Linked DNA regions of Homo sapiens: region 1 is linked to region 2. A link means that fine-mapping ties the variant in region 2 to the expression of a gene that starts in the linked region. Tissue or cell type: prefrontal cortex. Region 2 holds a variant in brackets; the other region holds the start of a gene. All regions are shown on one strand. Distances are from middle to middle. Region 1 holds the start of BRPF3-AS1 (BRPF3 antisense RNA 1). Region 2 overlaps BRPF3-AS1 (BRPF3 antisense RNA 1).

Region 1 (11,720 bases), 20 kb after region 2:
CTATATTGTTTTCCCCATTCTTTTTTCTTGGATTCTGACCTTCATGATACTTTCTTCATATATCTGTTGGTTTTTGGTTGTTTATTCAATGTTAAGAGGTAGTTTTTTTTAAAGCTGTTTAAAACTCTATGTGTGTTGGGGTAGGGGTGGGGAATGCTTGATACCAGGTGAGCTTCAGCATAAGGCAAAAGGTGACAAGCTGGATGTTTTAGTGAAGATGTTCCATCGCCAGTATTCATAAATAGGTCTTTTCTCCATCTTCAGAGAGGAATCATGGTATTCTCTAACATTCTGTAATCCATTGCTTCTCAAATCTTAATATGCATATGAAACATGTAGGGAGATCTTAAAAAGCAGATTCTGGTTTGGTAGGTCTAGAGTGGGGCCTAAAATTCCACATGTTTAACCAACTCCCAGGAGATGTCAATACTATCGGTTCTTGAACAATAATCTAAGTAGCAAGGTTCTGGCTGCGGGTGGTGGCTCACGTCTACGAACCCAGCACATTAGAAGGCCAAGTTGGGAGCACTGCTTGAGCACAGGAGTTCAAGACCGGCCTAGGCAACAAAGTGAGACCCTGTCTCTTAAAAAAAATTATCGAGGCATGATGCTGTGTCCCTGTAGTCCCAGCTACTCAGGAGGCTGAGGTGGGAGGATCGCTTGAGCTTGGGAGGTTGAGGCTGCAGTGAGCTGTGATCACACCACTGCATTCCAGCCTGTGCAACAGAGCAAGACCTCATCTCAAAAAACAAAAACAAACACTAGCAAAATTCTAAAATAAACCTGGCTTCCAGTGTTTTGCAATGTGATTGGGGGAAGAGGCAGGACCACTAAGAATTTTGATCTATGAAACATTTATTTCAACTAAAAGGATGGACTGACTAGAAATGTTTTCATGAAATTTTCTCTTAGCCCCCTTCTGCACCACCAGATTCCAGCAATTTGTACCAGATTTCCCCTCCCTCATCAGTCTAGGGAAGAACATGTGATGGTGATGATTGGGGCTCGGGGGAGCATCTTATTATTTAGTATGCAGAGATTCCCTTTAATTTCCGTTTTCAGTATGACACTTCATCGCTGTCTTCATTGGTTCCTGGTGGCCCCAAGTCTAGAACTTCTTTAGTTCAATTTCTTGAGATAGTAAATCTCACCTGCTGTTGTTTTCCCTCATTCTCTTTGTTCTTGTGGATTTCATTGTCTTGTGGATTTTTTTATCCTTTACTAACATTATTGAAGTTAGGGGAGGGAGTGGGGACCAATGCATGTTGTCAAGCCAGACATTATTTTAACCATGCAATCATTAAACTTTTCCAGAAATGTCCCACTCATTGTGGACTACTCTTTCTACAATGTACAATGTAAATTGTAAATTGAATTTAAATTTGCCATCATTTCATTGTTTTCTATTTGTTTCACCTTTACTATATTTCCTTTTCTTTCCTTGACTTCTTTTAGGTTGGTCGAATTTTTTATTCTTTTTTTACTCTGTACTAGTTTGTGAGTTACATCCTCATTTTTTCATTCTTTTAATGTTAATGATTAGTCTAAAAATTGCAACAGGTATGCTTTATCAACTTAATTGTGGTAAAATTTATGTAAAATAAAAGACAGCTACTCTGTACAGTTTAAGTTTTGGCAAATGTATATATACCTGTTTCTCCACCACTGCCATCAACTTACAGAATGTTTCTATCACTCCAAAAAGTTTCCTCATGCCCTTTATAGTCCCTCCTCCCCTTCACATCCAGGAAGCCACCAATCTGCTATCATTATAGAGCAGTTTGCATTTTCCAGAATTTCATATAAATGGAAACATGTATTTTATTATTATAGGTATTCTGGAGTAATCAAAAGCTAATATTAATCCTTTAACTTTACCTTTTTCTCAGAGTATTTTAATCCTGGAATTCTCTAAAATCCTCTAATTCACTGTTTCTCAACTTTAATATGCATATAAATTACTTATGGAAATCTTGTCAAAATGCAGGTTCTAGTTTAGTATGTGCTATTATTTTTGTGTATTTTCTCTCCCTTTAGTAAAATTATGCCAAGAAGATGGCTACTTTTAGGGTTGGTACTTCTGCTAAAATATGGAATTATATTTTATAGTGTCCTGGCTTCACTCACAGTTAAGAGTTTAGGATTTAATAGAAATCCTAATTAAAGGTTGAAAAGATAAGACATTAGATCAAGTTGAACAATTTATACTTGTCACATACTACTTGCTTTCATGCTTGCTTGGTTTAGCATTCCACTGAGTATATGGTAAAATGTTCTAGCTAGAATTCAAGTTCAGAAGATAATGCAAGCCACACTGGATAGCTAATTTAAACCATACCGTATCACACTCTCTTGCCTGACTAGAACTTAAAGCATGGAACTATTGAAGTCATTTCCCTGTTCCAAAAATCATCAGGGTCTCCTGCCCCTTCATGTCTAGCTCCCTACCCAACCAACAGTCTCCATGCTCTGACTTTACCTTACCAGCCTTCTCTCTCATATCCCTCATTTTTGGGTCAATGGGTAACCCACTGTTTCCTGAAACAATCTTATGGCATTCCATGTGTTAAAGAAAAGACAGCAGACCCCAAATGGAGTCATTCATGCTGAGAGGTTCCATGACACCAAACCAAAACCTGTATTTTACTGTAAGATCTGACTCTTCAAGAAATCAGGAGAGAGATGATAGTCAAATCCCATTAAACCAACAAGATTTCATTTACATTCCTATAAAGAAAAATAATCTTGAAAAGACCAATCTGCTATTTGCTCATTGTTCCTGATTTATTTCACTTCTTTCTGCCTATAAAACTCACCTACTTGTTTAGCTCATAGGAACTCCTTTCTATTTTGTAGACTGGATGTTGCCCAGTTCATAAACAGCTAATAAAGCCAATTGGATCTTTGGGACTCATTTGTTGAAATTTTATTCTTTGATACGTTCTTCCTCTTTGCTCATGCGGGTGGCTCAGCCTGGACCACACTCCCTCTACCATCTTTCTAGCTGACACACCTACCTGAGAGCTTTCAGGTAGAGCTCAGATAGCACTTTCTTCACAGAGCCTTCCCTCTTCTCCTAAACAGACGAGCTCACTCCCTCCTCCAAACTTTGGCACTTCGTTTGCATCTCTCTTGAAGTGCTTATATTGTAGCACGTTCCAGTTATAAATACCCTTGCTTTATACTGTGATTAGAATCTAAATGCCTTCAAGTCTGCAAGCATACTCTTTTCACCTTTGTGGCCTTTACAGCCATAAAATAGAACCTTACCAGCAGCTCACAAATAGTAATTGAATAAATATGTATTTCAGTGTGACCAAAAGAGGTTCCAGAGAACTTGAGCTGATTTCATCATTTCTTCAATCCTCAGGTTCCCACCTCCAATAGGAGCTCCCGAGCAACCCTTTGCCACCTCTTAATTTGCAATGATTGTACCAAACTGTGAGAACCTACAAAGTTTGAACTTAGATTCTTCTTCAATCTTCTCCTTTGTTCTTATGTCCAATCAGACAAAACAGTTGCTTTGTCATCTGATTTCTGATTTGACCTTTCCTTTTCCTCTTTCTCTAACACATTTTCCATCATTCTGCTTAATGCCTTTTTATTTTCATAATGCCTAATTACCTATAGTAAACTCTTCCAGGTTTACCGGATCTCCTGTTCTACTTTCTCCAATACATAAAGAGGATAACAGTAACATTTTATAGAGTTAGTAAGTTGATAAATAAGATATGGTGTGCATATTGGACCTAGTTTGTACATGTACCTACTACCCCATTGTACAATCTTCTCCTGCTCATGTCCTCTGGTTTTAGGAGTTGATACATGACAAGCAGCATGTCCCTCTGGCCACAGTTATTGGCTCAGGATGGCTGAGAAATTGCAAGATACAGTATGCTGATGACATAATTCGAGTCCTTTGACTCGATCTTGTCTATAGCTAGATGCACCCCTGGACTTTCTGGTTATGAGAGTTTATTTCCTTTATTAAACTCACTTAAGTTGGTTTTCTGCTAACTGCAACAAAGATCTTTAATAAATGGAGTATATAAAGCACTAAGCACAGTACCTTGTACATAAGTGTTAGGTATTATTTTTATTATCCCTGTCCCCTTGCCATACCTCCTACCCAATTCAATCTTTTTCTTATCATCTGCCCATACATACCAGCTAGGATAATTTCCGCATTATTCCCTGCATATTTTCCCTTTGCCTGGACTGTCCTGTCACCAACCCAATGTCACTTTACACTCTTTTCACCAGTTCACATCCATCATGATTTAGAACTTGGCTTAAAGAAGTCTCCCATTCTCCAAGAAGCCTTCTTTGAATAATGGTGGCTCCATACTCTTCACTGCCTTATCTATTTTTTCTTGTATGTGTTTTCTACTTATTTCTACCATTCTGGATTGCACACTACTCAAGGCAAGAAAAAATATATTCTATCTATACTTATGATCATTAGTCCCTTTCTAGGTTGAGATTTTGTCATTATTTTCCAAAGAACTTGTGCAGTATTAGACACACTCTAAGTGGTCAATGAATACGTTTTAGAAATACATAAATGGAATTAAATCTAGAGAGTGTGGTATGTTACTCTATTTAAGACCTGTTGTTAACCTAGCTAAACTTTTCCCATTTTCCAAGCAAACTTTACATTCTTAAACCATTTTAATTAGTGTAAAAGTATCGGCCGGGCGCGGTGGCTCACGCCTGTAATCCCAGCACTTTGGGAGGCCGAGGCGGGCGGATCACGAGGTCAGGAGATCGAGACCATCCCGGCTAAAACGGTGAAACCCCGTCTCTACTAAAAATACAAAAAATTAGCTGGGCGTAGTGGCGGGCGCCTGTAGTCCCAGCTACTTGGGAGGCTGAGGCAGGAGAATGGCTTGAACCCGGGAGGCGGAGCTTGCAGTGAGCCGAGATCCCGCCACTGCACTCCAGCCTGGGCGACAGAGCAAGACTCCGTCTCAAAAAAAAAAAAAAAAAAAAAAAAAGTATCACAATGATTCCAACCTCAAACATTCCTCCCAACTGTGGTTTCAGAATTCTTTTAGTCAAGTATCTAAGGAAGGAATATTCTATTAAAAATAATTTAACAATCAATCAAGGCCTATTTTTTTCCTTATCATCCACGTTATTAATCCAGTGGGTACTGCGTCTGACCCCTGAGAGGTTTCTTGGCCTGATAAACTAATGACAATAGTGAAGCATTAACAAAGATATCCTGAGATGCTGAAAAAAAGTATGATGGGGAAGTATGAAAGAAAGAGGTGGGGAAATGGTGATTTTTTTTTGTATTCATGTTTCTTTTAGTTTTAAATGGTAAAACCTTCTCCTATCCCAAATAAGTTGGTTTCTACTTACAGCTGGAAGGTTCTTAAAAACAACTATTTGGAATCAAAGATCCATGCCTCTGTTTGTTGAATTTAATTGCTGTATGGTTTATTGGAAAGGCCAGGGGTGGTGAATTTAAACCGTTTAAAATAGCAAACGATTAAAGTGAATTAAATTTAGTGCCTCTGAGATTTTTGATATATGTTCCAAATTTGTTTTTAATAACATAATTGTTCCATGTTACATTTAAGATTCCATCACAGGGAACTGGTTACGTGTGCAGTTATGCTTGTAGAAACCAATTCCAAATGTCAAAAATTAAAGTGAGGGCAACTGTAATGATATCATTAAAAAAGTAGAAGTTGAAAATGGAAGAGAAACACTTAGGTTGAATAAGGTCTTAATATGAAAGCTTTGAATAGAAAAACCTGAAAAAAATCACATGCATTAGGTTGACTTAAGGCCTTTTCAACAGCATTTAAATCGTTGACTTACAAGTAGAAACCAATGCATTTTCTCAAGGTATTTATTCATTCATTTTAGTGGAAAAAGATAGCTCCTGATCACGCAAATGGGAATTGTGCTAAATAAATTTTGAGAACATCCATCAAGAAATAAAAGTTACTAGTCATATGTATAAATGATTATTATATTTCATGTTTTAATAGTTTCTGTTAGTTTTCAGACTTTTTTTTTCTTAACTACAAGTACTGTAATTGCAATATTTTCTTGCCTCTGGGGCTTTCTCTTCCACAATTAATCATCTTTTTCTTCCACACCTTCCCTCCAAATGATTATTCCCCCTAGCTTCAGAACACTTGACATTAATTCATACTATTTCATCTTCACAGCTTTCAAAACATTGTCCTGCCCTTGCTTAGCTCCACGAGCCACCCCCCTTGCATTTAAAAAATTGGTTAACAGAAGCATTTTTGTACTATCTCTTTGCCAGAAGATGCTATTTACTTGGAAACAAATTAGCTTCCTTAATCAAACTTTTGAATTTGAAACTCTCTATATTTAAATTCCTTAGTATAACATCTATACTTCCAAAGTAGCAGTATGTTCACTTTAAACATTCAGAAAATTTGGATCCTAAGACTTTATCCTTCATCCTTCTGACTCTAGAATACATGTCCTTGATCATCAGAACCAAGAAAGAAATTGAGTCTCACCAGCTACACCACAAGTGCCAGCAGAGGAAACACTTTCAAACTGTCACTCACCTTCACATTTACAGGCAGCTTATCCATACGTCCTTTATAAACATCATTATGTATTGGTGCTTAAGACTTCAGTCACATGAGGTAAGCTTTCCAGTTTACAGGCAAAAGGGGGTGGCAATGGAGCCCTTTTCTTTATTTTTTTGTTTTTTTAGATCAAAACAAAAGCCAGTTTGGTCTGATGCTGCCATTTGTCAAGCATCTTTTAGAAAGCCGCCTAATGCATTAAATTAACCAAGTCAGGTTTAAAGTGTTTCCCATGCCCACAGTGACAGACGAGTTACCAGGCATGCTTAAGCAGACTGTCAAACTTTTGTTTACTCCTTTTAAACGGAAAGTCAGATTTTTTTTTTTTTTTTTTAAAAGATGTGTGGTGCGGAACAAGACGCTCACCTGTACACAACAAAGGCAGGTCTTTCCCGGCTGTCCTCACTGGGGGAGGGGATGGACAATCGCTAGACCTTTGTCCTCAGGTCCTGGGCATGGGGGTTAGGGGAGACGCGACTTTCTGGGAGTCGTGCAGGCACCTGCAGTCAAGAAACTACATATTGGTTTTGACCTCAATGACTGCCCTGGCTTAACCTTTGGAGAGGCCCTTTAGTTCGGGGAGGGGGCTTGCTGCTCCAAACCGTAGCCACGTCACCCACAAGGACTGGGGAGGAAATGACTGACCGCTCAAGAGTCAGGGACCCCTGTCTCTCCCAACTAGACCCGAACGTCCACAGCCCTCTTATCGGGCTCGCCCCGTGGCGGGCAGGGCCGTGGTGCGCAGGGATCGCGGCGGGCGCAGACCCGGTCTCTTGCTCGGTGTCCCCGCCGCGCCCGCACCGCCACCGTGAGGCCGAGCCGGGGATGGTGCCCCGTGGCGGCGGCGGCGGCGCCTCCGCGCTCCTCTCCGCACCGCCCCGGCCGCCGCCGCGCCAGGCACGGGCGGGGGGATTTTTTTCCCGTTTCCCCCTCTTTCGCGCTCTCGCTCCTGTTCAGCGGGAGAGCCCGCAGAGTCAGGGAGGGAGCGAGGGAAGGGGTGGAGGTGGCGGGGGGAGGCCGGAGGGGCGGATCCTGCCTGGGGGCTGATCCCTCCCTCCCCTCGGCCGGGCTCCGTGGCGGCAGCGGCAGCAGCGGCGGCTCCATTCCCCCTCCTCCCCCGGGAGCGGCGGCGGCGGCCGGGCCGGGGCCCCAGCGCGGGCCGGGAGGGGGCACGGCGGAGGCCACGGAGGCAGGCGCGGGAGAAGACCGCGCTCCGCTTCCCGGGCCGCGCCGACCTGCTCGGCGGCCTGCCCGCCCGCGCCCAGGGGCCCCGAACGGTGGGGCCGGGCAGGCGGCTGAGGTAATGGGGGCGGCAGCGGGGCCGGACAGAGCGGGGGCGGGGGCATCGGGGCCTTCGGGGACCAGGGACTGCACGGGGGGAAACCGGAGAAGCGGGGGGCTTTCCGAGCAGGGCGGGGGCGGTGCGAAAGCTCTCTCCTGGAGCGAGGGCGGCGGCAGGGAAGGAGAAGGCGGGTGAGCGGGGGAGCTGAGAAGCGAGGACCCCCTCCCGCAGCCGCCATCTTGTCTCCCCCCCCAGCCCTGGATTCCGAGCCGCTAAGCCCCGCCCCCGCCACGCCTTCCAATTGGCCTGGCCAGACGAGAGTCCCGCCCCTTGAGCGGCCCTAGGTCCCCTGGGTCCCTCTGACGGGCAGGTGACGCAGCCAATGGGTTCTCGCCTCTCCGCCCCGCTCATTCGCTGGCGCTCGCTTTCTCTGTCTGAGGGTCGGACTCCACGTCAGGCTGTCTCTGGTGCGCTCGCCCCTCCCCTCTGAGGAGATGTTATTTCCCTCCTTTCTTCTCCGAGGGGTCAAGATTCTTCTGGAAGAGGTGCCCCCTTAAAGGAGCAGGAGCCTTGGCTGGGGTCCTCCTTGTCTCCTGAGTATCTTGTGTGAGGTGCAGGGGATACAGTCTAATTGCAGAAGCTCCTCATTCTTCGGGGACCTGGATGGGGTGGGTGAGCGAGGGGTCAGGGGGTGCCGAGGGGAAATCTGGGGGGGCGGGGGTTGTTGGAGATATTTTGGAGGTGTGTATGTGGGAAGGGCTGTGTAGGTTGAGAAACTCCCGCCAAAAAACTCGTCTAGACTGTAAGCTCCTTGTGGGCGAAACTCTTTTCATTTCCCTCATCAGCAGTCCCTTCCCCCTCTAGAGTTTCTCCCCGGTGTCTGGAGGCGTGGGTGGGACAAAACACGTCTGTGTAGAGTCTTGCATGGTCGAGAGATGCTTGAGCAGCCGAGGAGGTGGCAGGTGGGGAAGGAGAAGATGGAGCGGCTTTCATGAAAGTGGGCGCCGCACCGCCTGTCTGCGCTGTTTGGGGTCGGTGTGGAGGCAGATGTTCTCACCTCTTCTAGGGCCTCGGTGCCTTTGGAGGGGTGGGTGATGAAGCAGGTCTGTTGGCCCTGTCTGCCCCCAGGGACTTGGCATTTGTAAGGAATCCAGTAGCCAAGGGCCTCTGGAACCCGGACAGAATTGCTGCGATGATTCTGTTTCCTTTGGCTCCAAATGGGGTGTGTGCCAGCCCGCCTGGCACTGCTCCTCAGCCAAATTGGTTTTTTGTTTGTTTCAGTCACACTTTGGGATTGGAAGGCCTTTCAAGTAAAGATGTTAATAATACCTTATTAACAAGTAGCACCTAGAGAGCTAGATTGTGTTACCCTCATTTTACTGATGGAGTATGGAGGCATAGAGAGCTTAAGGGACTTTCTCTAGGTCACAGAGGGCCAAGATTAGAACCTAGATTGCCCCAGAGCCTCGTTTTGTACCAGACCATAGCACCTCTGTGGTGTTCTTAATTCCCACTGAGAGGAATTGAGCATCGGAAGACCTGGGTTCAAATTGTAGCGTTATCACTTACTAGCTTTACGTTGAGTGACATCTTTCTGAGCTTCTGTGTAGATGATAATAGCTACACCATCTCCTAAGGTAGTTGTGAGAAATATTAAAAGTAAGAGGGCTTTGTAGTTTGGAAAAAGTGCTTTTATTATCACCGTCTCTACTTTATATAGATGGTAGACCCTGCAACCAAGGCGATGAATTGTTTTTCTCTTTGAAATCTTCTCTTTGTTCATATCCTTCCAAGTCTGCCCACACCATGGGGCCCTGTATCCCCAAAGGTCTCTCCTGGTGGTGACAGCCTTGGTAACTGCCTACCGCAGCTCCTTATGAGCTTGTCATCCAGAGAATGATGGGGGAAACTAGGACTTTCTCTTGGCTGTACAAGGATAGACTAGATATGAGTGTTCTGGGAGAGACTTTTGAGGTAACAGAATGCATTGAGAGTTTACCTCAGATACTGCCCAGATCATCTTGGCCTTCGGTCGAATGAAGGTCCTAGACAGGCCACTATAACTTCAGAGATCTCTTGGAGCCACTCTCAGAGCTTCTAGGGTTTGTTTCTGCCTGGAAATGTACTAGTTGGTGTATCCTGGATCAGGGGTTCCCAACCCCCAGGCCGCAGACTGTGGCCTGTTAAGAACCAGGCCATACAGCAAGAGGTGAGTGGCGGGCAAGCGAGCATTACCACCTGAGCTCTGCCTCCTGTCAGATCAGCGGCTGCTTTGGATTCTCATAGGAGCGCGAACCCTACTGTGAACTGCGCATGTGAGGGATCTAGGTTGCATGCTCCTTATGAGAATCTGACTAATGCCTGATGATCTGAGGTGGAACAGTGTTCACCACCCACCCTCATCTGTGGAAAAATTGTCTTCCACGAAACCAGTCCCTGGTGCCAAAAAGGCTGGGGACTGCTGTCCTGGATGGTGTCTTTTGTAGGGAATACCCTGCATACTGTAGTTTGAAGCCCTTAGACCATGTATCATAGATATTTCAGATGCCTTCACCCCTTCACCTCTAGGCAGGGTCAAGGAGTAGGGTTTCTGATCGTGGTAAGAGGTATTGGGAGAAGACTCTAGTGACTTTTGATCCTCTGATGGGGCCCATTGTTCACGTACAGAGCTTGACAGTGGATGCTTTTCTTGTTTTCTTTTCTAAACCGTTAACTACATGTGTTTTCCATAGTTAGCTGTCGCCCAGCTTTATGTACATCATTAGAACATTAGATCTTTCCCCATGTTACACTGTAATAATCTGTTTACTTTTCTGTCTTTTGAGTTAGACAGGGCTCCTTGAGGGCAGGGATCATGTGTGTTTGATTTCTTCTTTCATTCAACTAATACTTATTGAGTGGTTACTTAGGAGCTAAGCACTGCTCCAGGAACTGGGGATGCAGCAGTGAACAAGACAAACAAAAATTCTTCCCCTCATGGAGCTTATATTCTAGTGGAAGGAAGGAAACAATAAACATAGTAGTAGGTAAATTATGTAGCATGGTATAAGATGATGAATGTTAAAGGGAAAAATAAAGCAGAATGAAAGGTAGATTGCTGGTGGAGGAAAAGGATTTGCAATTTTAGATAAAGTGGTCAGAGAAGGTCTCACTGAGAAGTGTTGTTCACTTGAAGAAATGAAAGACTCAAAGGAAGTGAAGGAGCAAGCCATGTGGATGCCTGAGGGGCAAGTTGTTCAGACAGAGGGAAAAGCCAGTCCTCTTGGTGGATGCTTGATCATATGGGAGGATGAATGGGTGCATAAGGGCATCCAACTCATAGTCTCCTGGCCTTCTCTCCTTAGGCCTGTCCCCTCAGTTCCCAGGTGCCATGAGGAAGCCTCGTCGGAAGTCCCGGCAGAATGCCGAGGGCCGGCGTTCCCCGTCCCCCTACAGTCTCAAGTGCTCACCCACCCGGGAGACCCTGACATATGCCCAGGCCCAGCGGATTGTCGAGGTAGACATTGATGGACGCCTGCATCGTATCAGCATCTATGACCCACTCAAAATCATTACTGAAGATGAGCTAACTGCCCAGGATATCACCGAATGCAATAGTAACAAGGAAAACAGTGAACAGCCTCAGTTCCCTGGCAAGTCCAAGAAACCCTCATCCAAGGGCAAAAAGAAGGAATCCTGCTCCAAGCATGCATCTGGTACTTCCTTCCACCTCCCACAGCCCAGCTTCCGTATGGTGGACTCAGGCATCCAGCCAGAAGCACCCCCGCTGCCTGCTGCCTACTACCGCTACATTGAGAAGCCACCTGAAGACCTGGATGCAGAGGTAGAGTATGACATGGATGAGGAGGACC
Region 2 (12,004 bases):
TGTTTCTCATTTTCTCAGGTCCCCCAGGCACACCATCTTTCCTCTGCTTCCTCTCACACAGGTGCTGATACTGTGTAGGTTTGGGGCTGTTGTTCTGGCCCACTCCCTGATATTTTCTGGGTTTGTCACCTAGTTTTCTTAAAAGTATCATCTACATGGTTTTGGTTTCACTATCTATTCTGTCTTTATTTGAACACTAGGGGAAATTCATTATGCCAATCTCACACATTGTGTGATTCCATTTATATAACCTTCTTGAAATGACAAAACTATAGAGATGAAAATCAGATTAGTGTTGCTAGGGCTTAGGGATGTTGAGCAGGGCAGTAATGAGGAAGAGCGTTATGGTGATAGAATAGTTCTGTATGTTGAGTGCAGTGGTGGTTATATGAATCTATACATGTGATAAAATGGTGCACACCATTTTATTTTTTACCAATGTCAAATTCCTGGTTTTGACACTGTACTGTAAGTATGTAAGATGTAACCACTGGGGGAAACTGGATGAAGGGTACACCAGACCTCTCTGTACTATCTTTGCAATTTTCTGTGAATCTATAATTATTTCAAAATTTAAAAAATGTTTAAAACGGGAATGAAGTATTGATACATGCAATAACATGGATGAGCCTTGAAAACAGTATGCTACATGAGAGAAGCCAGGCACAAAAGACCACATATTGTATGATGCAGCTTACATGAAATCAGAATAGGCAGATCTAGAGACAGAAAGCAGATTAGAGATTGCCTAGAATGGGAGATGGAGTCAGGGAGAGGGCAGAGTAGGAAGTGAGTGCTAATGGGGATGAGGCCTTTTCTAAAATTCTAAAATTAGATAGTCAGGTTGATTGCTCAACTCTGTGATGCTAAAAAGTCACTGAACTGTATATTTTAAATGGGTGGATTTTGTGGTATGTAAGTTATATAACAACTCAATAAAGTTGCTTTAAACCATTAAAAATAGTACCCGGATGTAATGGCTCACCTCTATAATCCTAGCACTTTGGGAAGCCAAGGAGGGAGGACTGCTTGAGCCCAGGAATTGGAGACCGCTTTGGGCAACATAGTGAGACCCTGTCTTTATAAAAAATAATTTTTTTAATTAGCCAGGCATGGTGGTGCATGTAGTCCCAGCTATTCAGGAGGCTGAGGCAGAGGATCACTTGAGCCTAGGTGTCCAGGCTGCAGTGAGTCATAATCGCACCACTGCAATCCAGCCTAGGCAACAGAGTGATACCCTGTCCCAAAAAGTTTTTTGTAATACTGTCCATACCAAGTATTGGTGAGGATGTAGAAAAGTTAGAACTCTCATGCACTGTTGATGGGAATGTAAAAATGGTAAAACTGCTTTGGAAAACAATTTGGAAGTTTCTTAAAGAAAAAAAAAATTGAGCATAAACCTGCCATATGATTCAGCCATTCCACTGCTAGGAATTTATCCAAGAGAAAGGAAACATATGCCCATAAAGACTTGTTCTCAAACATTCATAGCAGCTTTATTTGTAATGGTCAAAAAATGAAAACAATCAAAATGTGCATCCACAGGTGAATGCATAAACTGTGGTATAACCGTACAATGGAATACTACTAAGCGATGAAAAGGAATTAACTACTGACACATGTCATGATATGGATGAATCTCAAAGTAATTATACTCAGTGAAATAAGCCAGACAAAATAGTAATACTATATCATTTCATTTGAATATCATTGGTTACCAGGCAGGGAGGCAGAGGAATAAAAAAAAAAAAGGAATTACAAACTTTTGGAGCAAGCTTTTGGAGGTGACTGTATGTTCATAATCTTGATTGTGATGGTTTCATGGGTATATACATATGTCAAAGCTTATAAATTATATACTTTAAACATGTGCAGATGATTTTATACCAAGTATACCTCAATAAAGCTGCTTTAAAAAAACTATGCTACCATCATCTTCCTAAAATCAGCAATCATGTTTTTAATTATCAAGAATTATTTCTTGTTCTTTGTTAGTTTCACAATATTATAATTCTTTTTTAAATTAAAAAAAGCTGTATCTTTGAGAATATGAATTATTTGTTGTTTCTAACCTATTTCCTGAATTGTCTCTGGTGTCAGATTTTTTTCTTTCTTTTTTTTTTTAATTTTGATTTTCCAGTTGTATGCTATAGACCTTTCTCAATGTCTGGTGATCTTTGGCTTTCTACTCATATTGTGAAAATAGAAAAGAAGACATCTCACTGAGGACCCTGTACATGGGAGGCCTATATTGCTTTGGGTAAAGTGCAGGAATCTTACTTTACAATGAAGTTCTCAAATTCCAGAATGAGGAGGGCTTTAGGTGAGGTGCCGACATCACACTAGCTGCCTCCAGACTTTGTGTTCTATTCTTTTTAGAAAAATATTCTGTGCTGTCTGTGCTAGGACTTGGGTAGAAGGGGCTGTTATTTCAACTACCCTCCTGTGTTTAGCCTCAACATTCACTTCCACTTTCATTACCCACTGAAGAAGTCTCTCTCTCCTCCCTTATCTGATGAAGCTGTCTCTCCCTTGTTCGAAAACATATCTATCCCCTTTCCTTGTAAGAGGAAGACAATCCTCTCTAACTAAAGACAAATCCCAGTAAGCTTTTAGAGATATAAGTTCAAGTCAAACCTAGGAAAAGCTTTACACACAAAAATAAATATAGGGATATTGCCCATTTATAGCAGAACTGGATTCTGTGTCTGCCCACCAAATGAGGAGGAACATAGTTTTAGTTTGGGACTGAATTTACTGATGCGGATGTCCTTATGATTTTGGACTCATTATACTAGCAGCAGGGAATAGTTCTAACAATTTGCTCAGCTGGTTAACCAAAACCCAGAACCACCTGGTGTTCACTTGACAATGGAACACACTAAGTTGAGGTGCCAGAAGTTTCTTGAAATAATGCAGAAGTACATAGGAAGCTCCTTCCCTTAGCATTTATGAGCCCGTGGATCCAATGGTGTTCCATAAATGAGTGGCAATTGTGAATGCGATAGGAAATCTGTGACAGTCCTCAATAGGAATTGCAGTGGAGGCCCCTAAAGTAATGGAGCAAAGCCGCTGCCTCATAAGCAAGTGATTATTTTCATTTTGGAAAACTGCTCTAGCCTTGCTCTGGGGATCTGGGGGAGTCCAAGTGCTAAGATCAAAACTGCCCACTGTGAGTTGTCTCAGCTACCTAGCTATGAAGTTGGGCATTCTATGCAACATTTTAACATGAGCTATAAGAGGTATAAAATACAGAATGAGGCTCCAGCCATAGCTGAAGATACAATAAGCTGTCTGAATATAAGTAACACATGCTCCCACCATGCCTAGTCTGGCAGCTTGCCTTAGAGAATAGCAGAATGCCCTGCTGAAGAGCCAGCTGTGCCTCCAATTGGGACAACACCTCATGAGGTTGGGGCACTGGCATGCAGGATATATTATATGTTCTGAATCATGAACCAATGTATGCGTATGTGTGGCTTCTCCTGTAATTAGAATGTACAGGTATGGAAACAATGGGGTGGAAATGGGATAGTATCTTTCATGATTAAGTCTAATGTGTTTGTTACTCATCAAATTATTGCTTCTCCTCTCCATGACTTGGGGCTCTGCTGACTTGGCATTTGGGGATCCAAGAGATAACTGCTTCTATAAGAAGACAAAACAATGTTTCCACTGCTGGTCATTTTGGGCTCTTATACCACAGGCAAAAAAAAAAATAAAGAAGGTCATGATGTTGACTGGGATGACTGGTCCTGAATAATCTTGATCATCATGGGAAAGAAGGCTGCTGCTTCAAAGTGGGGATGTGGAAATCTTAAAAATTTTGATATAGAGTCTCACTCTCTCACCCAGGCTGGAGTGCAGTGGCACTATCATGGCTCACTATAGCCTTGACCTCGGGATAGGAAAATCTTAATAGAACTCAGGTCTGCTATTCTGGAGCAGGTCTTAAACAACCATATCCAACGGAAAAAGTTAATGGAAGACTGCTATATCCCTGAAGACAGATTTACCAAGGAAGTAATTCTTATGAGGTGAGTTTGGTAAGAAACTCCAACTTACTGAGTTCTTTTGTGAAGGCAAAGGGAACATGACACAAATTACAGAGAGGAAAATTTATACATGTCAACCACAGCCCCATAAGCAATTACAGAATAGGGACTGTCACCTCTACCCATATTTCTTTCCTCGTTGGGTATATATTTATACATTTTAATGAATTTTAAAATTCCTCATCCCCACTTGTACCATTTATATTTGGTGTGCAAAAGTGGTTAATTATACAATTTCTTTTTTTCTTTTTAAAAATATCAGGTTTACTGAGGCCTAATTTTCTTTTTTAACAGGGTCTCACTCTGTTGCCCAGGCTGGAGTGCAGTGGTGCAATCTTGGCTCACTGCAACATCTGCCTCCTGGGTTCAAGCGATTCTTGTGCCTCAGTCTCCCAAGTAGCTCGGATTACCAGTGCCTGCCACCACGCCTGGCTATTTTTGTATTTTTAGTAGAAACGGAGTTTCACCATGTTGGCCAGGCTGGTCTTGAACTGACCTCAGGTGATCAGCCTCACAAAGTGCTGGGATTACAGGCATGAGCCACCGCACCTGGCCAAATTTTTTTCAAATATTTTAAATCAGCAATTGATTGAATCTGAAGATTCAGAACCTCAGAGGGAAACTATGTTGTTCAGAAGACTTACAGATTTGATTAGCTCAAGACATTTTAAAGTATGCATGGTGAAATTTTAATGGTAACCACGAAATAATAAAATTAGAATGTATAATTTCCAAACCAATAGAGAGAAGATATATGCAAAAGAAAGAAAAGAAAGGAAGAATGGGGGGGAAGGAGGGAGGGAGGGAGGGAGGGAGGGAGGGAGAGAGGGAAGGAAGGAAGGAAAGAAAGATTGGCAAAAATCTAAAATGAGACAAGAAATGTGTATATGCGTGTGGTGGGGGGAATATAATGAAAAGGGGACAAAGCACAAAGCAAGGTGATGGAAATAAGGCCAAATATATCATAATTACAATAAAGTTAATGACCTAAAAGTGCCATTTAGGACAGAGATACTTAAATTTGAAATAAAAACAAAGTCCATTAATATACTGTACAATAGGCTCACTTAAAACATAAGTCAACAGGTTGAAAGCAAAAAGATGAAAAAGACTAATCCAGACAAATACTAACAAAAGAAAGCTGAGGTAGTTATATTAATATTAGAGAAAATGGATTTTAAGACAAAAACATTATTAGGAAGGAAGAAGTTTGTTATATAATTTTAAAAATAGGGGGTTATAAGTACACAAAAAAATTGGTTAAAAAAATAAAAAAGATTTGAATAACACAATTAATTTGTTTTGTTTTATTTTTGGAGGTAGGGTCTCACTCTGTCGCCTAGGCTGGAGTGCCATGGTGCGATCTCGGCTCACTGCAATCTCTACCTCCTGGGTTCCAGTGATTCTTCCACCTCAGCCTCCCCAGTAGCTGGACTACAGGCATGTGCCACCATGCTTAGCTAATTTTTATATTTTTTGGTAGAGACAGGGTTTCACTATGTTGGCCAGGCTGGCAGGATTAGTTTTTGATCACACAATAGAACACAATAGAACATCTAAAAATTAGGGAATATTCATTCTTTTCAAGCACATGTGGAACATTTATAAAAATTAAATACTAGTCCATAAAGTGTCAGCAAATTTCAAATAACTGCTATAATAATAGCATTCTCTGACTACACTAGAATTAAATGAGATGTTAATAATCAAGAAAAAGGCTGTCTGTGCTGGCTCACACCTGTAATCCCAGCACTTTGGGAGGCTGAGGTGGGCGAATCACCTGAGGTCAGGAGTTCAAGACCAGCCTTGCCAACATGGTGAAACCCTGTCTCTACTAAAAATACAAAAATTAGCCAGGCGTGGTGGCAAGTGCCTGTAATCCCAGCTACGTGGGAGGCTGAGACATGAGAATTACTTGAACCTGGGAGGCGGAGGTTGCAGTGAGCCGAGATCGTGCCACTGCACTCCAGCCTGGGCAACACAGCGAGACTCCATAGGAAAGAAAGAAAAGAAAGAAAAGAAAGAAAGAAAGAAGGAAAGAAAGAAGGAAGGAAGGAAGGGAGGAAGGGAAAGAAGAAAGAAAGAAAGAAAGGAAGGAAGGAAAGAAAAGAAAGGAACTCTCCATGTATTTATAAATTTAAAAACACACTTCTAAAAATGTCAATACTCCCCAGATTGATATATAAGTTAAATAAAATTTCTACTAAAATCTCAGCAAGGTTTTATGTAGAATACACAAAATTAGTCCCCAAATTTATGTGAAAAGACAAATAGAATAGCCAAAATAATTTGGAAAAAAGAATAAAGTGGGGGAACCAGTCTTCCCAATTTCAAGATTTTTATAGAGCTACACTAATCATGACTGTGTGGTATTGGCAGAGGGAGAGATACAGATCAATATAACAGGATAGAGAACTCAGAAATAGACCTACACAAAAATGTCTAACTGATTTTTGACAAAGGTGCAAAAGCAATTCAATGACGAAAAGATAGCCTTTTCAACATACGGCACTGGAGTAATTGAAGATCCATATGCAAAACAAACAAACAAAAACACATGAACTTTGAAGTAAGTCTCATACTTTCTACAAATATTAACTCAAAATAGATCACAGACTTAAGTGTAAAGAACAAGACTATAAAACTTTTAGGAAAAAAAATAGGAGAAAATATTTGAGACCTAGCACTAGCAACAATTTCTTAGACTTGACACCAAAACATAATTCATAAAAGGAGAGATTGATAAATTGGACTCTATAAAAAATTAAAAAACTGTTGCTTTCTCAGAAACCCTGTTGACAAGATAAAAAGAAAGGCTAAAAACTGAAGAAAACCACATATCCAACAAAGGATTAGTATCCAGAATATACTCTCAAAAGAACCCTCAAAACTCAACAGTAAAAAATAATCCAATTAGATGCCAAATGAGCACATATAAAGATGTTTAATATCATTAGCCATTAGGGAAATGCAAATTAAAGCCACAATAAAATATTAGCATATACTCTCTCTAGTTAAAATAAAAAATTTTGACAACATCAAATGCTGGCAAGTATGCAGAGAAACCAAATCATTCATATATTGCTGGTGGGAATGTAAAATAGTAGAGCTGAATTGAAAAACAGATTGGCAGTTTCTTAAAAAAAAACAAACTAAATGAAGTATGACTCAACAATTACACTTCTAGGCATCTATCTCAGAGAAAGACAGACTTATATTCATATAATAACCTGTATATGAATATTCACAGCAGCTTTATCCATAAATCCTTAAACTAGAAACAACTCAGATGTTCTTCAGTGGGTGAATAAAGAGTGGTACATCCATATTATGGATTATTCCTTAGCAATAATAACAAATTATTGATAAAGGCAATGATCTGGATAAACCCCCAGGGAATCATGCTGAGTGAAAAAAATCCCAAAAGGCTATATACTGCATGGTTCCATTTATACAATTCTTGAGATAACAAAATTATAGAAATAGAGAACAGATTAGTGGTTGCCAGGGCCTAAGACAGTAATAGGAAGGAAATGCACGTGGCTGTAAAAGAACAACACAAGAGATCCTTGTGGTGATGGAATTGTTCTGTATCTTGACTGTATTAATGTCAATATGATTGGAACTGCATTCAGAATGGTGGAGTAAAAATCGCCAAAAATTGATTTCTTCAGAAAAGCAATGAGAGCACTGGCAAAAAATTGTTAAAATCAACATTTTTAGAACTCTGAAAATTAACCAAAGGCTCACAAAAGTCTGAGGAGCATTTTCACACACACACACACACACACACACACACACACA[T/C]GGCTAAATCTCATAAGAAGAGCAAGACTGGTGGCATTTTAACTTGTCCTATTGCCATCCCTCTTTCTGTAGTTCCATAGTAGCCTTGGAAACCAACAACCTTCAATCATGGTAACCCTGAAAACCAGCAACCTAGCAGTCACTGAAGCAGGCAGAATGGGCTTGGAGTTCCCCTAAATGCTCATCTTCCATTAGTTATTCTTTGACTTGTCTGGCAGTTTCCTGGAAACCACAGGGGCTCTCAGGGTTGGTCTTTATTGGAACTGACTCAGGGTTCATTTACTGTGAACAGCCTTTTCTTTGGAGTATTTATGGAAAACAATTAGTGGCAATTGTTTAACATCTCAGGTGCCTGAGGTGATAACATTTGGGGGAAAAAAAGATTATAAGGAAAAACTGAGGAATAAGATTTTTTTTTTGACATGGAGTCTTGCTCTGTTGCCCAGGCTGGAGTGCAGTGGCACGACCCTGGCTCACTGCAAACCTCTGCCTCCTGGGTTCAAGTGATTCTCCTGCCTCAGCCTCCTGAGTAGCTATGATTACAGGCATGTAGCACCATGCCCGGCTAATTACTGTATTTTTAGTAGAGATGGGGTTTCACCATGTTGACCAGGCTGGTCTCGAACTCCTGGCCTCAAATTATCCGCCCACCTCGGCTTCCCAAAGTGCTGAGATTACAAGCATGAGCCACCTTGCCCAGCTGGATTAAGAAGTTTATAAGTGTGTTTGGAAAGCTTAATCAGATTTCCCGGAAATGTAGATGACCACATGCATGTACAGGTGACCACATGCATGTACAGGCTGTATCCCTGCCCAGAACTATGTGCGTACCCAGGAAAGGTTTGAGAAGACCTTAATCTCTAACCACTGGCAGACCTTGAGGTTCTGCACAAGCAGAAAGTAAAGACTAAAGCAGAGTTGTCTAGTGTGTGGTACAGCTTTATGGATATGTCCCAACACACACACACAGACCTTTGGCAAAGGCTGGGAGACTTATCAATTCAAAGCATTTAAGAAAATATCTGTCCATTTATTACCTGATCACTAAGCTAAGAAAGCAGAGGCTATAGTGGCCAAACGTTACAAAGAATACAGACTTTACAGAATTAATTTAGGAAAGTAACTAGACAAACAGGAGCAACAGCAATTGCAAGAATAAATTCTGGGGAAGAGGGGGAATCTGATTTCCAGAGTTGCCACATTTTATTATTTAAAACATCTAGTTTTCAATAAAAGTGTATAAGATATGCAGAGAAACAGGAAAAATAACCTATACACCGTGGGGGCTGGGTGGGGGGAAGCAATGAATAGAAACTGTCAGGAAGCCCTGATGTTGGATTTACTAGACAAAGACTTTAAATAGGATAGTATAAATGTGTTCAAACAATTAAAGAAAACTATATCTAGAGAACTAAAGAAGAGCATGAGAATAATGTCTCACTAGAAAATATTGATACAAAGATACAATTATAAATGAGGACCAAACAGAAATTCCAGAGTTGAAAAGTACAATAACTGAAATGAAAAATTCACTAGAGGAGCTCAATAGTAGATTCAAGCTAGCAGAAAGAAATATCAGCAAACTGGAAGAAAGGTCAATTGAGATGCCCCAATATGAAAAACAGAGAGAAAAAGAATAAAGAAAATGAAGAGTTTCAGAGATCTGTGAAACACCATGAAGTGTACTATCATACATATAAAATAAATCAAAGAAGCAGAGGGGAGAGACCTAAAAAGAATACTGGAAGAAAAAAAGGCCAAAACTCCCCAAATTTGTGAAAAACATTAATCTACACATTTTAGAAGCTCAGCAGACTCAAAATACGAGAAACTCAAAAAGATTTGCACCTAGACACATTATAATCAAATTGTTGAAAGCGAAGGACAAACAGAATCTTGAAAGCAGTGAGAGAGAAGTAATTCATCACATATAAGGGATCCTCGGTAAAACTAACAGCTGATTTCTCATTAATGTCAGTATCTTGATTGTGATATTTTCTATAGTTTTACAAATAGGAGAAATTTTACAAATTGGGAGGAAACTGGGTAAAGTGTACACAGGATCTCTTTCTATTATTTCTTACAGCTGCATGTGAATCTATAATTATCTCAAAATTTAATTAAACATACTCCTGAAACAATACTTCAATCCAAGATGAAATTGTAATAAAAGTGTAAAAAATATTTAGAAATGAACAATAATAAAAATACTGTGTATCAAGACTTGGGAAACAAAATAGTAGTGGTAATTCAAGGTAAACTTATATAGTCTTGTATGCTTATATTAGAAATTAAAACCTGAAAATGACATAATTAAGCACCCAACCGATGACAGTAGAAAATAAAGAATGAACTCAAAGAAAGTAAAAGGAAGCACATAAAAATTATTAAAGCAACAATCAAGAAAATACAATAGCCACGCACAGTAGTGTGTACCTGTAGTCCTGACTACTTGGGAGGCTGAGGTGAGAGGACCATTGGAGCCCAGAAATTTGAGTCCAGTCTGGATAACACAGTGAGATACCACCTATAAAAACAAAATAAAATGAGATATTTTTAAAAAGTATTTTAAAAAGTACAATAGAGGGGATCAACAAATTCAAAGCTTGTTACATAGGGAAGAAACTAATAAAATTGACAAACTACAGGGGGCAGGGGGAGGGGAGAAGAGAGAGGGAGAAAAAATATTAGTAATGCAAAGGGGGACATAACTACAGAAGGATCAGAGATGAAAAAAAAAGTTTTTTAAAACTTAGATGAACAAAATCCTAGGAAAACATACTTCAAGAAGAAATAAGTCCTATGACCAGTAAAGAAATTGAAGTTAATAAAAATCTTCTTACAATGAAGCCATCAGGATTAAATAATTTATATGATCTGAATGTCCCCTAAAACTCATATTGTTTCAAGTTGAAGCAGTCTCACCAATATAATAGTATTAAGAGGTAGGTAATTCTTCTGTGTCAAAACAGGGGGGATAATAAAACAAAGAGGTAACCCCTTTAGGTAATGATTAATTCATGAAGTGGAGTCCTCATGAATGGGATTAGTGACTTTATAAAAGGGCCCAAAGAACTAGTCAGTTCCTTTTGCCCTTTCATCTCTTCTGCCATGTGAGGACATAGTGTTCATCCCCTGAAAGAGGCAGCAACAAGGCGCTAACTTGAAAGCAGAAACTAGGTCCTCACCAGGCACCAAACCTGCTGGCACCTTGATCTTGGACTTTCCAGCCCCCAGAACTGTGAGAAAATAAATTTCATTTCTTCATAAATTACCCAGTGTCAGGTATTTTGTTACAGCAGCAGAAACACAGTAAGATAGTGAGTTCTACCAACTTTTCAATAAACAGCTTATTCCAATGTTATACAAACTCTTATAGAAAATAGAAAAAGAGAAAATATTCTCGACTCATTTATGAGGTAAATAAAACTTGATTCCCTAAACAATCTAATTATAGACAATCTCACTTTGGAGCCTATATGTAAAAATATTAAAGTATTAGCAAACCAAATCAGTGAGATATTTTAAAAAGGTAATAAATAATGAGAAAGTCAGGCTAATCCAGGGATGCAAGAATGGTTTAATACATATATTTTTTGTAAGCAGAATTTTCCATTGCTAAGAGAATGGTTTAATATTAGGGAAACAATTATTCACATTAAAGATTAAAGGGGTACTTGGTATGGAAAAAAACAAACTCAGTTTCTCCTACTATACCCTCACAACACAGAACACTTCCGTGACTCCAGATGTGTGGGGGTTTATACCCACACATCAAGCAAGCAATCAGTTCTGCAGCAGATAACATCTGAGTGTCTTTTAGTTCTATTTGATTCTGACACTATCCACCCGGAGTTCTCTACCCATAGGTTGAGAGATCAGTCCCACAAGACTCCTCTCCACTTTGGATGCAAGTTGCAAGCATAGATTGTGCTTACATTGTGCAACCTGAGTTTCTGACCAATTGGCTATAAATTGAGGATTCCCATGACTCCCTCCTTGGGTTTGATTAATTTGCTAGAACAGCTCACTCAGCTCAGGGAAACACTTTACTTACATTCATCCATTTATTATAAAAGATATTACAAAGGATATAGATAACAGCCAAATGGAAGAGATGCATAGGGTGAGGTATGAGAGAAGGG

What was found.
Region 1: it holds the start of BRPF3-AS1, and the variant in region 2 is fine-mapped to the expression of BRPF3-AS1 in prefrontal cortex (CommonMind, PIP 0.95).

What each region holds. Positions count from the first base shown.
Region 1 is chr6:36,189,084-36,200,803 of GRCh38, forward strand. BRPF3-AS1 (BRPF3 antisense RNA 1) reads right to left here and starts at 8,120. Exons shown (of 3, transcript NR_187147.1): 1 at 6,954-8,120. BRPF3 (bromodomain and PHD finger containing 3) reads left to right here and starts at 7,661. Exons shown (of 13, transcript NM_015695.3): 1 at 7,661-7,887; 2 at 11,214-11,720. The coding sequence starts at 11,240. RefSeq lists a silencer at 7,276-8,015 and an enhancer at 8,366-8,415.
Region 2 is chr6:36,169,322-36,181,325 of GRCh38, forward strand. It overlaps BRPF3-AS1 (BRPF3 antisense RNA 1), which reads right to left. Exons shown (of 3, transcript NR_187147.1): 2 at 10,296-10,386. Among named protein-coding and RNA genes, the nearest start is that of BRPF3, 21 kb to the right of the region's middle. The variant T/C (reference allele first, on the strand shown) is at 7,860.